Homo sapiens: one gene and its partner. The protein of the gene in region 2 interacts with the protein of the main gene of each other region in a pairwise test. Each region holds a gene or a part of one and is shown on either strand. Other genes may lie near its edges.

Region 1 (7,036 bases), on a different chromosome or scaffold from region 2:
GAGGACTATTTTGTTTTTGAGATGGGTCTTGTTTTATCATCCAGGCTGAAGAGCAGTGGTATGATCATAGCTCACTGCATCCTTGAACTCCTGGGCTCAAGCCATCCTCCTGCATGCCACTTCACCTGGCTTATTTTTCAAAAATTTTTTGTAGAGATGGGGTCTCACTATGTTGACCAGGCTGGTCTTGAATTCCTGGCCTCAAGTGATCCTCCTGCCTGGGCCTCCTAAAGTGCTGGGATTATAGGTATGAGCCACTGTACCTCATGAGACTTTCTAAATAATGTGTATTTCTACAAGTTATTTTTAACCTACCATCAGATGTATGTGTGTATATATATGATATTTACATAAAACATGTATGCGTAGTATATGTATACATTAAAAAAATTATGGCTGGATGCAGTGGCTCACACTTGTAATCCCAGCACTTTGGGAGGCCGAGGTGGGCGGATCACTTGAAGCCAGAGTTCGAGACCAGCCTGGCCAAAATGGTGAAACCCGGTCTCTACTAAAAATACAAAAACTAGCTAGGCAGTGTGGCATGCACCTGTAATGCCAGTTATTTGGGGGGCTGAGGCAGGAGAATTGCTTAAATCTGGGAGGGAGAGGTTGCAGTGAGTCGGGATCAGACCACTGCACTACTCCAGCTTGGGCAATAGAGCCAGACTTCGTCTCAAAAAAAAAAAAAAAAAATTTATGCTGTCATAAAAAACTAGGCCTTTCATTTCCCAACTCTGAGTAATGCCTGGCTCAGGGATAGTGGTCATGGGGCGGGTACCTACACTTTGCTTTTCCAAGCTAAGTCAAGAGCATTAAGGACAAAAGTTAATACAAAGAAAATATGAATTCAGGCAGGGGTCCAGTGAAAATGAAGCCTGGCAGCTTCCTCTGTGCAAGGCAACAAGAACAGAAACTATGGAGAAACTGTCCAGTGGAGGCACAAGAATATGAAGACATCAGCTCCATCCTGGCAGGGAATTTTTGCCTGTTTTTGTAGTATCTTCAATAAGTATTTGTGGTTTGAATGACTGGAATGAGAACAACAGGAGATCAAGATTCAGTTATTGATCATCTTAGTGTGAAAGGGTTGATGAGGAAGAAGGAACAATGAGTACTTTCTTTATACTGTTCTGTGTATTTAACCCATATAACCCATGGGTATATATTACTTTTTAATTTAAAAAGACTAATTTTTTTTTTTTTTTTTTTGAGACACAGTTTCACTCTGTTACCCAGGCTGGAGTGCAGTGGCACAATCTCGGCTCACCACAACCTCCACGCCCTGGGTTCAAGCAATTCTCAATTCTCGTGCCTCAGCCTCCCAAGTAGCTGGGTCTATAGGCATGTGCCACCATGCCTGGCTTATTTTTGTATTATTAGTAGAGATGGGGTTTTGCCATGCTGGTCTCAAACTCCTGACCTCAAGTGATTTACCGGCCTTGGCCTCCCAAAGTGCTGGGACTACAGGCATGAGCCACTGCACCTGGCCTAAAAAAGACTAATTTAGATGTCAATGTAGATTTTTCTGGTGGGAAAAAAATGAAGGGAACATATGTACTTTCTGTCTTTAACCTTCTCTGTGGATTCAAGTTTGGCAAGATGATGCAAAGATGAAAACTGATGGAAAGCAGATGATAATATTTAGGGCTAACTTATTTCTTAGGAGATCTGATAATCTACAGACATTTACATTCATGTAGGAAACTCACAGGAAGGAAGTGAATATGGCTAATGTCACGATGTGAAAACCGGACCAGAACTCTGAAACTTCCTGTAGCCTCTTCTTTTAGAAACTAAAGATCTTATGCTCAGGGCTTTCAGAATCATGGCTGCTGGTTCTACCCACTTAATAATGAGAGCAGGGCAAAAGTTAGCTGTAAGGGCATAACATGCCTTAAGATGACATCTACAGACTTGCCTCTTTTTAGGATAGGCTACCTACCAGCTCTGCTTAGACTCCTAAATGTAATCAGATTTCATAGCAAACCATTATCTAGGCTGGACGTGGTGGCTCACACCTGTAATCCTAGCACTTTGGGAGGCCGAGACAGGCGGATCACTTGTGGTCAGGAGTTCAAGACCATCCTGGCCAATATGATGAAACCCTGTCTCTACAAAAAAATACAAAAATTAGCCGGGCGTGGTGGCAAGTGCCTGTAATCCCAGCTACTTGGGAGGCTGAGGCAGGAGAATCGCTTGAAACCAGGAGGTGGAGGCTGTAGTGAGCCAAGATTGCACCACTGCACTCCAGCCTGGGCGACAGGGCAAGACTCCCTCTCAAAACAAACAAACAAAAAAACACATTATCCAGTCAAAACATCATTCCTAAAGAAGACCCAGGGTCTATATCTGGTATTGGGTCTACTACACAGACACTAGATCTAAAGATCAACCACTGAGATGGAGATTTCCACAAGGCAGGAATTTCACTCTACAGCAAACACCACATCGAGATGGTATTAATTATTTATATTCTAGGCATTAAGTTGGTTTTCATGAGGGCAGGCCTAGATACAGACTAAGTAATACTGCCGGAGCTTCCCCAAGGCCAAGAAATCAGGTTACATATTGCTCTTCAAAGTATGCCGCTCTTGATATCTACAGTACTCCAACTTTATCTTGTTGAACTTTTGCCAGTAGAAATGACAAAATCAGGAAAAAAAAGTAAAGGTTAAGGAGAAGGCAGCAAAGGTAAGCACTGAGTTACCTGCACTGGCTCCAGATACTGCTTTGGAAATGGCACTGCTGGAAATTGCTCTGTTTCGCTTCATGATATCTTCAAATTCGGCTTCACTCACTGTAGAGGGTGGAGGGCCCGAATCTCGGCTGTACAGAGAAAATACCATCCTTGATTGCTCACATCCCTTATTATTTTTACTGTACTCTACAACACTTTGGTAATTTTGGCATAACACAGAACAATGCTAGACATCTGTAGCATTCATAACACCTGCTCCCGCATTTAATTAAGCACCTTAAAAAGGGGTATAAAGGACATGGTACTACTTCCCAGGAGTCAATGCTATGATAACAGAATGTCTATAAGGGAAAGAACAAGGATTCAGTGCTCACTTTCTCAGGGAGAATAAAATGCTTAATACACTTATTTACCCTGGCTCAAATCTGAAAGGAACAATAGTCCTTACCTGCCATGGTGGTTATAGGGGGCAGAGGCCTTCATGTAAGTATCTGGTGGAGGCCCCACTGTAGCGTTTGGTGGGGGGAAGAAGGCTGGATTGAGGTGAAGGGCAGGTGGGATGGCCCCAGGGGGAGGTACAGCAAGATGAGGAGGTAATCGAGGAGGTGGGGGCATGAGATGCTGGTAGTGGATACCAGGAGGAGGAGGAGGGACCCCAAAGCTTGAGGAGAGAGGTGGTGGGGGTGGAATTGGTGGTGGGGGCAGACCCATCAGGGGAAGGGCCGAAGGAGGACGATTGAAGTAGGGCAGCACACTGGGGGGCTTATCCACACGAGCAGATGAGGGTACAAGGTTCTCAGAGGGTGTGGCCCGTCCATCAGCAGAATCACTAGAATCTCGGGAATGGGCCCGTGGAGGTATTCCTATGAAGCAAAACAGAACTGATGTTACTGCCCAGGCTTTACACAAACCCACAGGACCAGTTCATCCTTCAGAAGTTATCAGACACCCTACAAAGGAAGGTGACTAAAGAGGCTGAGAAGGTAAAATCATCTACTGCCTTTTTTTTGGCTTCAGAGGTCAGAAGCAACTCAGTGAAGACATTAAATCCAAAAAACAATATCGTCCTAAATCCTGTCAAAGAATGTTTTCCATCCATAACTCCAGAAGTGCTTCAGAACAGATTTAATTTATCCTTATATGTATCTTCTATTTTTAAATGTAGAAGGATCCTGATAGCCCACGAGAAAATGACAGTGTTCACTGATGTTCAGGTGAATTGCAGTTGACTTGAAACCCCACATCTCCTGAAGAGTTCAGGACCTCTCTCCTTAAACTAATACTAGTTAACCTCTTCCTGTTGCACACTTAAAATGTTCTCTTTGCCACAGGGTGTTGGCTAGGGAATTTAAGGGAAGAGAGGGAGTGGCAGGAACTGGATGGCACTTCTATTTACATACTAAAACTAGTAATCAGGGTGAGAAAGAGACACACATGAAGACTAGACAACTGGAGGTTAAGTGAAAGATAAGAAAAATTGGGAGATACGCCAATAAAAGATCCGCCCACAGCACAAGCAGATAGCACACAGCTGACAGTAAGGATGCTTAGCAAAAGCTTGCTACAAAACATGTCTCCAATCTGGGGAACTCCCGCTACATTTCAATGGCCAAAATCCTCTACCCTTCAGGGCAGCCTAACAGGAACACCATCACCACATGCTAGTATGGTGCTGTGCACAACAGGAGCTCAGAACATGTTTTAAACAGCTGGAAGCATGGATTCTGACATTGTCAAGTCACTTGGTTAAACTTGTTCCTTCTCTCCAGTTTAACAGTCTAAGCCTGTTTATTGTGGAATCCAATAGAAGAACAAGATCACATGGCTTTGGGGGGGTCTTGGAGATAGAAAGATGCCACTGGCAGCAAGTGTGGAGGAAAGAGTGCTCCTTAAACTAGAATATGATAGTTAATCCCAGCTCCTGAGTAAAGCCTAAGGTGGAATCAATTATGTTGACAACCACCTAGATTTCTCTTACAGAACAGTGCCAGTGCTGTCTTGTTCTTCAGGTCTCAAACACATGGCAACTGGCTCTTTCCTAGAGTTCTCTCAAACTGAAGAACAAAAAGGTATAAGGCAAGTGTCATCTGACAGTTAACCACTTTCCCAGCTACTACTGTTGTCACATCTGCAAAGGTTGTTTTGTATCTATGGCTACAAGTCCCAAAAGACGCAACATTTCTATGCAGAGGAAGTCCACCAGCTTTACTTAGTGAATTAACAGAGCCCAGGTCCATCAGCATGACAGAGCAGAAAAACAGCACTCAGTTACACAATCTTTTCAGCAAAAAAAAGTAACATGAAAAGTAGCTGAGTAGAAGTAGAACGTTACCCCCAATACAGTTGTAAAATTACATACCTAAGGAAAGTCAGGGGTGAATTACAGAAAGACTCCAAAACAGAGGGGACTTGAAAATACAACTTGTCAAGGAAGAAGAGTGTGTCCTTTCTAACATGGAACAACAAGAGTTCACACCAAATCTATCTAGGCTGTCAATCTAGTTAAAAGAACAGCTGTTCCTATGCAAGAGCAAAGTGGTCCTATTTCTACCTGGAGGATACACCCAATCAATACAAGGCACTATTTTGAGAGCTGGACCTAAGCAGTGACAGAACATCAGTGATGAAACTTTGCTGTTCCTCCCACTGTAGCAAAAGAAAATAAGGGTGGTTGGCTGTCTCAGGGAAGGTCTTGCAGGGTGGCTGCACTTTATGAGGTCAGGAAAATCCAAGGTCTAGTCCTCAGGTTTCTCAGGTTCAGAAACTTGCTTCAACTGGGGTGACTAGGCCCTAGGAGACTGATTCATGCTAACCAAACTCACAAGAGACTGATTCATAAACCATAACACCAATTTATTAATTTACAATGAGAAATGTAATTGCCAAGCAGACCAGAATACTTGTGTCGGCTGGTCAGCGAATTCTCTTCCTAGTAGGAGACCCTAATTGGGAAACCAAATTAGCATCAGAAAGTGGCTTAGTGAGTACAGTCAGAATAAAGAGAGTAAGATGGACATTGGGGAAACTGTCCTCAAACTAAGGTAGTTCTGAGGTAACTTTCTTTTTTCTTTTTTTTTTTTGAGACAGAGTCTCACTCTGTCACCCAGGCTGGAAGGCAGTGGTGCAATCTCAGGTCACTGCAACCTCCACCTCCTGGATTCAAGAGATTCACCTGCCTCAGACTCCCGAGTAGCTGAGATTATAAGCATGTGCCACCATAACTGGTTAAGTTTTGTATTTTTAGTAAAGACAGGGTTTTGCCATGTTGCCCAGGCTGGTCTCGAACTCCTGACCTCAGGTATCTGCCCGCCTCAGCCTTCCAAAGCACTGGGATTACAGGTGTGAGCCACCATGCCCAGCCCCTAACTTTTTTATTTTCCCTCCAAGATGGAGTCTTGCTCTGTTGCCCAGGCTGGAGTGCAGTGGTCTGATCTCAGCTCACAGCAACCTCCGTCTCCCGGGGTCAAGCAATTCTCCTGCCTCAGTCTCCCGTGTAGCTGGGATTACAGGCATGTGTCACCCACACCCGGCTAATTTTTGTATTCTTAGTAGAGATGGGGTTTCACCATGTTGGCCAGGCTGGTCTCAAACTCTTGACCTCGTGATCCACCCACCTCGGCCTCTCAAAGTGCTGGGATTATAGGCGTGAGCCACCGCGCCCGGCCTGTAACTTTCTTTACTAATGGGATATAACTGCCAAGCAGACTAAAACATTTGGTAATCAAAAGAGCACCCTCTCCCCTGGACAATGCTGGAGAAATATTGTTCAAGTCTTATTCTCCAACACTCCTCTTGGTTGATTCCTTACAGTATCCTTCCAATCAACGTTTATGAAAAGATTATAGGCACCTTTTAGTTACATTTTAGGGTGGCTGCTTCTTGATAATTTATAGAGAGGCATGTCTTAAAAATTAAGCCCATTCACCTAATGCCAAGTTTTAGACAGAAACACAGAATTTAGAGGTGATGGAACTTTAAACATCATGTCACTAGTCCAGATGGGGAAACAGGCCCTAAGTAGTAAAGTGACTTGGCCAAGGTCACACGAGTCAGTGGCAGAACCAAACTACAACCTGAACCTACTTGACTCCCAGCACAATGCTCTTTCTTCTATATAGACCTATTCTGAGGACTACTTGTCGACCATGACACCACTCACAACCACCATCACCCTCCCCCAAACTCACCCACACTGTAGGCTAAGCCTACACCATAGAAAACAAACCCACAAACACCCCCCCCTCATACAGATGGTCTCCACGTACCCCCTCTTGGGACTCGGACACACTCACGTTTCCGAGCCTGTGCCTCAAACTGTGACAGGTTCTGCCGGGT
Region 2 (7,036 bases):
GTTCACTGTGGAAATGTGTACTTGATTAAAACATATATGGCTATGGAATCTGCTTTTGCAGTTCAGGATATACAGGTTTGTGTGTATTTAGCTTATTGTAAAGCCCTTACCTTAAAATAAGGATTAAAATTACATTTAAATAGATCACTGAATGTTACTCTTTGTGAAACTGAACTTTTTGTATGACACAAACATTATAAATCAACACTTGGGAAACTTTAACTTTCTTAATCTATTGATACAAGGAATAAAGTATGAAAAATTAAACAGAAAAAAGTCGCATTGAAGAATGCAGAAAATCTTAAAAGTCAGAGCATTGAAAGAAAAACAATATATTTGATACAACAATCATGGTCTGAAAATAAGTTGCTAAACACTGAATTTGAAATAATTATATTTGGCCAGGCACGGTGGCTCACGCCTGTAATCCCAGCACTTTGGGAGGCTGAGGTAGGCGGATCATGAGGTCAGGAGATCGAGACCATCCTGGCTAACACGGTGAAACCCCATCTCCACTAAAAATAAAAAAATTAGCTGGGCGTGGTGGCACCTGCCTATGTCCCAGCTACTCGGGAGGCTGAGGCAGGAGAATCACTTGAACTCGGGAGGCGGAGGTTGCAGTGAGCCAAGATCGAGCCACTGCACTCCAGCTTGGGCAACAGAGCGAGACTCTGTCCCAAAAAAATAAAAAAAAATAATTATATTTATTCTTACTATGTGCTAAGCACCACATTAAATACTTACAAATACAAAAAGGGATAAGTACAAATGAGAAAATCAAAGAATAGTAAGGTAAGTAAATTGTCTAAGTATATGCAGCTAATAAGGGGTAGCAATCTTGGTGGATCCCAAACCATCTGAGCCCACAGCCCAGCTCTTAACCATTATACTGTGTTGCCCAAGATGTCACCAGAAATGGTTGTGGTGTGGGTTTATCAGTATAGCATAAAAGAATGACATCTATTTGAAGAGAAAAAGGTGCATCTGAATTCTCAGACATCTGTATGTAGCCTAATTATATGCTTTCTAGACTCTTTTAAATGACAAAAATAATTACTTCATGAGTACTATCAACTATTATCATTGTATTACAACTAACAAATTTTTATTCATAAATGTAACGTGTATCCTGTTTAATTTTACCCATACTGCTGTTTAAGCTTTACTCCTCCTCCTGCTTTATTCCTCCATACACTATTATCTATTATATCAAATAGGTCTCTTGTCTACCCTCATAGAGTTTTTTCCCCCTTGCTTGTTAAGTTTTGTTTTAGGAATCAATACGAAAATGCAGTCTTTAAAGTCTTTTAAGATTTATGCAACAGCAACAAGAAACAGGAATACATTTGCATACGTTCTCCAAAATAAAAGTTGCATTCGACATGCAATACTTATTAAAACCTACAATTAAAAATATCCTAAGGCTGGGCCGGGCGCGGTGGCTCACGCCTGTAATCCCAGCACTTTGGGAGGCGGAGGCGGGTGGATCACGAGGTCAAGAGATAAGAGACCTTCCTAGCTAACACGGTGAAACCCCATCTCTACTAAGAGTACAAAAAATTAGCCGGACGTGGTGGCGGGCGCCTGTAGTCCCAGCTACTCGAGAGGCTGAGGCAGGAGAATGGCGTGAACCCGGGAGGCGGAGCTTGCAGTGAGCGGAGATCACGCCACTGCACCCCAGCCTGGGCGACAGAGCGAGACTCCGTCTCAAAAAAAAAAAAGAAAAATAAAAAAATAAAAATAAAAAAATATTCTAAGGCTGGGCGCAGTGGCTCACGCCTGTAATCCCAGCACTTTGGGAGGCTGAGGCAGGTGGATCACTTGAGGCCAGGAGTTCGAGACCAGGCTGGCCAAGATGGTGAAACCCCGTCTCTACTAAAAATACAAAAAAATTAGCCAGGCGTGGTGGCGCGTGTCTGTAGTCCCAGCTACCAAGAAGGCTGAGGTAGAAGAATCGCTTGAACCCTGGAGACAGAGGTAAACCGAGATTGCACCACCGCACTCCAGCCTGGGTGACAGAGCGAGACCCTGTCTGAAAAAGAAAAAAAATACTCTAGACCCCTCCCCCAAGCTGTAGTTGCAGGATCCATTCAGAGTAGGCACACAGAGCTTCTTGCTTTTTTTCTAATAATGTCCTAGAAATTACTCTACTTACATTTTACTAAAAAGAATTTATTCACAATCATCTGGAGTTGTTTTTTTGTTTGTTTTGTTTTTTTTTTTTTGAGACAGAGTCTCACTCTGTGGCCCAGGCTAGAGTGCAGTGGTGCAATCTCAGCTCACTGCAGCCTCCACCCTCCGCGTTCAAGCGATTCTCCTGCCTCAGCCTCCCAAGTAGCTGGGATTACAGGTGCCTGCCACTGCACCGGGCTAATTTTTTGTATTTTTAGTAGAGACGGGGTTTCACCATCTTGGTCAGGCTGGTCTTGAACTCCTGACCTCATGATCAACCTGCCTCGGCCTCCCAAAGTGCTGGGATTACAGGCGTGAGCCACCGCACCCGGCCTTTTTTTTTTTTTTTTTTCGAGATGGAGTTTCGCTCTCGTTGTCCAAGCTGGAGTGCAATGGTGTGATCTTGGCTCATTGCAACCTCTGCCTCCCGGATTCAAGAAATTCTCCTGCCTCAGCCTCTCGAGTAGCTGGGATTACAGGCTCGCACCACCATGCCTGGCTAATTTTTTGTACTTTTAGTAGAAATGGGGTTTCACCATGTTAGCCAGGCTGGTCTTGAACTCCTGACCTCAGGTGATCCGCCTGCCTCGGCCTCCCAAAGTGCTGGGATTACAGGTGTGAGCCACCACGCCCGGCCCATCTAGAGTTTTTAATTATAATATTAGTCCTCTAAAAATGCTATCACTTAAAAAAATTTTATCATAACATTCAAATGTTTGGCAAAAGCATGTGATCCCAGCATGTTTCTTTGTCTTCTTCCCCTTCCCCCTACCTTTTAAACACTTTTTATAAGTTCCTCATACTTTCTTCCACGGACAATTTTCAACAAGTCTAGTCAAACTTATAGAAGCAGAAATTAGAATGGAATCTCTGATGTTTAATGTTCTTATTACAACAGAAATAAAATATAATAAAACAAGCACAAATTCCACCTAACTGATTTTTTTACTTGCCTTATCAAGAAAAATCAAGAAGCCCTGTGTTGTGTGTCTGTGAATGGGCCCTGCAAAAATAGCTTGGGGGGAAATAACTCTACAAAAATCTTGACTTACAGGTTTTAACAAATGTGCTGTCAAACGCAGCTCTTACTTGCACAATAACATGCAGCTTTCCCTCTTTGGTGTCTGCCTTGCACTTTAAAAGCCCATGGAAGATGGAATTTTATTCTCTCAGTTAAGAGTCAACAAAACTACGATCATCACTCCCTTTTCTTTTCTAGAATATTTCAATGTGTTCACTGCAGAAGATAAAGGCCTGATTAAAACAAAATAATTCACTATCTTACCCAGGCTATATATTGGATTTTTTTTTTCTTTTTGAGACAGTGTCTCACTCTGTCGCCCAGGCTGGAATGCAGTGGCACGATCTCAGCTCACTGCAACCTCTGTCTCCTGGGTTCAAGCGATTCTCCTGCCTCAGTCTCCTGAATAGCTGGGATTACAGGCACCCACCACTATGCCCGGCTAATTTTTGTATTTTTAGTAGAGACGGGGTTTCACCATGTTGGCCAGGCTGGTCTCGAACTTCTGACCTCAGGTGATCTGCCTGCCTCAGCCTCCCAAAGTGCTGGGATTATAGGCGTGAGCCACCACGCTCGGCCTATATTGGATTTTTAAAATGTTCACATAAACTGAAACTTTGATGAGAGAATTTTTAAAAATCAAAATTGCTACTTTAAAATTTTTAATTAGTTCAAATAATGTGACTTTAAAACGAATATTCATAGATTTTAATATAGGAAAAATCTTGGCTAATTTTAAATTGATGCAGTTTATAATCTAGAGATAATACTGATTAAACCAATATCCATTTCATAATAATCAACCTTAATTGTCACTAAGACTGATGGGGAAGGACTGAATAGTTTAAAAACAAAACAAAACAAAACAAAAAAGACTGTTTGAGCAGAGAATCAGAAAGTTAAGAAAACTCATCCTGATCCTGACTAAAGTCAGTACAAAACAGCCATAAAGAGTGCTTGGATAAGAAAATTAACTTTCTCAACAACGTGAGCAGCAAGGAGCTTGGAAATGAGATACTGTATGGAAAAATAAAAGCTCTTCAGCTTGTTCCACTAGACAAATGAAATCACAGCTGTTCAGCTAAGGCCCTAACAATGATGATGATGATAATCATAAACAACATCATCATCACTTTATTGAGCCGTTGCACCAGGCACTATGCCGCCTTATTTACATGGTGAAGACTATGAATAACCCCATTTTACAGATACGGAAACCAAGGCACAGGGAAGTTAAGCAGCTTCCTTACGGACACAGATTTAGTAAGTGGCAAAGTCATGATTAGAATTCATGTAGTCTGGTTGCAAAGACCACACTCATCATTTCTACATTTTACTCACTGTCCTCTCCAGCTGTGAGAAGTAGAACGCCAATGAGAATTTAAGACTTAGTTGGTGGATTCATGATTGCAAGCTATGAGAAGATTCTATATAATGAATGACATCTTCTGCAACATCCTTACAGTTGTGTGACAGTTTCTCAAGGTTCTTTCTTATAATATCACCTCTGAATACAGGTGACAAATGTGAATGTGAAGTTCTACTCCTGTGGACTCACATGCACTTCAAAATAAATTGATTACAAAATCCCCTTAGTAGCTGACTAGTTAACATAAGGCTGATAGCCACAAGGTAATGTAAAGGGAAATATCCACCCCAAGAGTGTGACTTGGTTTTTATTATTATTTATTTATTTATTCTTTTTAGAGATGGGGTCTTCCTTGGCTACCCAAGCTGGAGTGCAGTGGCATAGCCAAAGCTTACTGTATCCTCAAGCTCCTGGGCTCAAGCAATTCTCCTACCTTAGCCTCCCAAGTAGCTGGGATTACAGGTTAGTACCACCATGCTTGGCTAATTTTATTTTTTGTAGAGACAGGGTCTTGTAATGTTGCCCAGGCTGGTCTTGAATTCTTGGCCTCAAGCAGTTCTCTAACCTCAGCCTCCCAGCTAGGATCCTTCCTCCTGAAGACAATTAGATAGGCTAGTTGTGAGGACAACCCCTAGTTTGAATGAAGTCATGTCATCAGAACAGCTAGGTAAGGAGAGAGGACAGACCAAGTGCATCCAATAGAAGGACCAAGTCATTACAATGCAAGTTAAAAAGAAGAGGTGGTCAGAATACATCCTATTCTATCCCTCAAGAAATTAGCATTCACTCATACAAAAGACAGTTCCACTAACCGAGAATCTCATAGTTACTGGAAAACAGAGGTTGTGTAAAAGTAAACGGTGACAAGTGGGAACATAACCTGCCATCATGCAGTAATTAACAGACTGTGTTTCTTACAACCCTAGAGTGTCAAGGGGATATCCCTTAGTGAAAAGGTCCTCCAGTCCCTTTATGTAGATATCTGTTTTATATTTGTAAGATTCTGAGTAAGTTTCTATCTGACAGAAAGGTCACTGCTACTTTTTAAAAAGTTTATAACCACCACTTTACCATATTTTTCAACTCTCTAGGGATACTGTTTGGCTTGTTCATTAGATCTAAAAACACCAGATATAAAAATCTTATCTGGCTAGGTATGGTGGCTTATGCCTGTTACCCCAGCACTTTGGGAAGCTGAGGCAGGAGGATTGCTTGAGGCCAGATGTTCAAGACCAGCCTGGACAACATAGCAAGACTCCAATCTATATTTAAAAAAAAAACAAAAAAAAAAACAAACGTTTTTTTGAGTCAGGGTCAGGGTCTCCCTCTGTCAGAGTGCAGTGGTGTGATCTTGGCTCACTGCAACCTCTGCCTCCTGGGCTCAAGTGATCCTCCCACCTCAGCCTCTTGAGTAGCTGGGAATACAGGCACATGTCACTGTGCCCGGCTAAGTTTTGTACTTTTTGTAGAGATGGGGTTTTGCCATGTTGGCCAGGCTGATTTTGAACTCTTGGGCTCAAGCGATCTGTCCACCTTTGCCTCCCAAAGTGCTAGGATTACAGACATGAGCCACTCTGCCTGGCCTACAAAAAACCTTTAAAAAAATATTTTGTACCAGTTGTTACAGTGAGAACAAATAATTACACAAAAATTATTTGAAAGGCAACTACCTGCCAAACAATGTTACATACTTGCTCTGAACTAAAATAAACATAGTATTACTTACATATACACCACTGTTTAACTACAGCATGCTAACAATCATATTATCAAGTACCAATGAAAAAATACAAATTCAACTTCTACCAAAATATTTTCATTAAAATCAAAACCCAACTTTTCTGTTTCTATTTTGATTCCTAACTCTACCAAAGCAATATAAACCGAGCAGTTACTGAGGTTTTCTCCTTAATTAGTGACCTGGTTCTACCTGATGTGGCCTTATATAAAGAGATTGCATTATATAGAAAAGGTCAGGTCTTATGAACTTAACTCACCAAAATGATCTGAAGGAAGACCTCATATTGTCGTATATTATATAGCGCTTCTTTTAACATATATGGCTGAAGTTCAGCCCTCATGAGTGGGTCGTTGGCTGCCTTCTCAAGGATGGCTGTGTAGCGGTATACCTGGCTCCGGGCAGTCTCAAGCTGGTAATCAATATGCTGCATGGTGGCTGGGATTGCTACATGGAGAACAGCTGGCACTGTTTGTAAGAGTATGAAAAGGCAGCCATAAAGGAGACTAAAAACAATTAAGGAGAAGAAGCCTAGAAAGTAGTTACATTTTAAACATTAAGTTAGGGTTTTTCTCCCCAATCAAATTAGTAATAATGAGGCATGTGTTTCCTGGGTCCCACAACATAAAGAAAATCTAGGCCGGGGGTGGTGGCTCACACCTGTAATCCTAGCACTTTGGGAGGCCGAGGCGGGCGGATCACGAGGTCAAGAGATTGAGACCATCCTGGCCAACAT

The links. The genes of interacting proteins can lie anywhere in the genome.
Region 1: the proteins of CFAP206 (region 2) and CPSF7 interact in binary tests that used the Homo sapiens proteins (3 or more experiments, as listed by UniProt).

What each region holds. Positions count from the first base shown.
Region 1 is NC_000011.10:61,412,956-61,419,991, forward strand, and holds part of CPSF7 (cleavage and polyadenylation specificity factor subunit 7), read right to left. Parts: coding exon 6,994-7,036; coding exon of another isoform or gene 6,967-6,993; intron 3,565-6,966; coding exon 3,150-3,564; intron 2,830-3,149; coding exon 2,711-2,829; intron 1-2,710.
Region 2 is NC_000006.12:87,417,940-87,424,975, reverse strand, and holds part of CFAP206 (cilia- and flagella-associated protein 206), read right to left. Parts: intron 6,769-7,036; coding exon 6,560-6,768; intron 1-6,559. UniProt on the Homo sapiens protein: Essential for sperm motility and is involved in the regulation of the beating frequency of motile cilia on the epithelial cells of the respiratory tract. Required for the establishment of radial spokes in sperm flagella.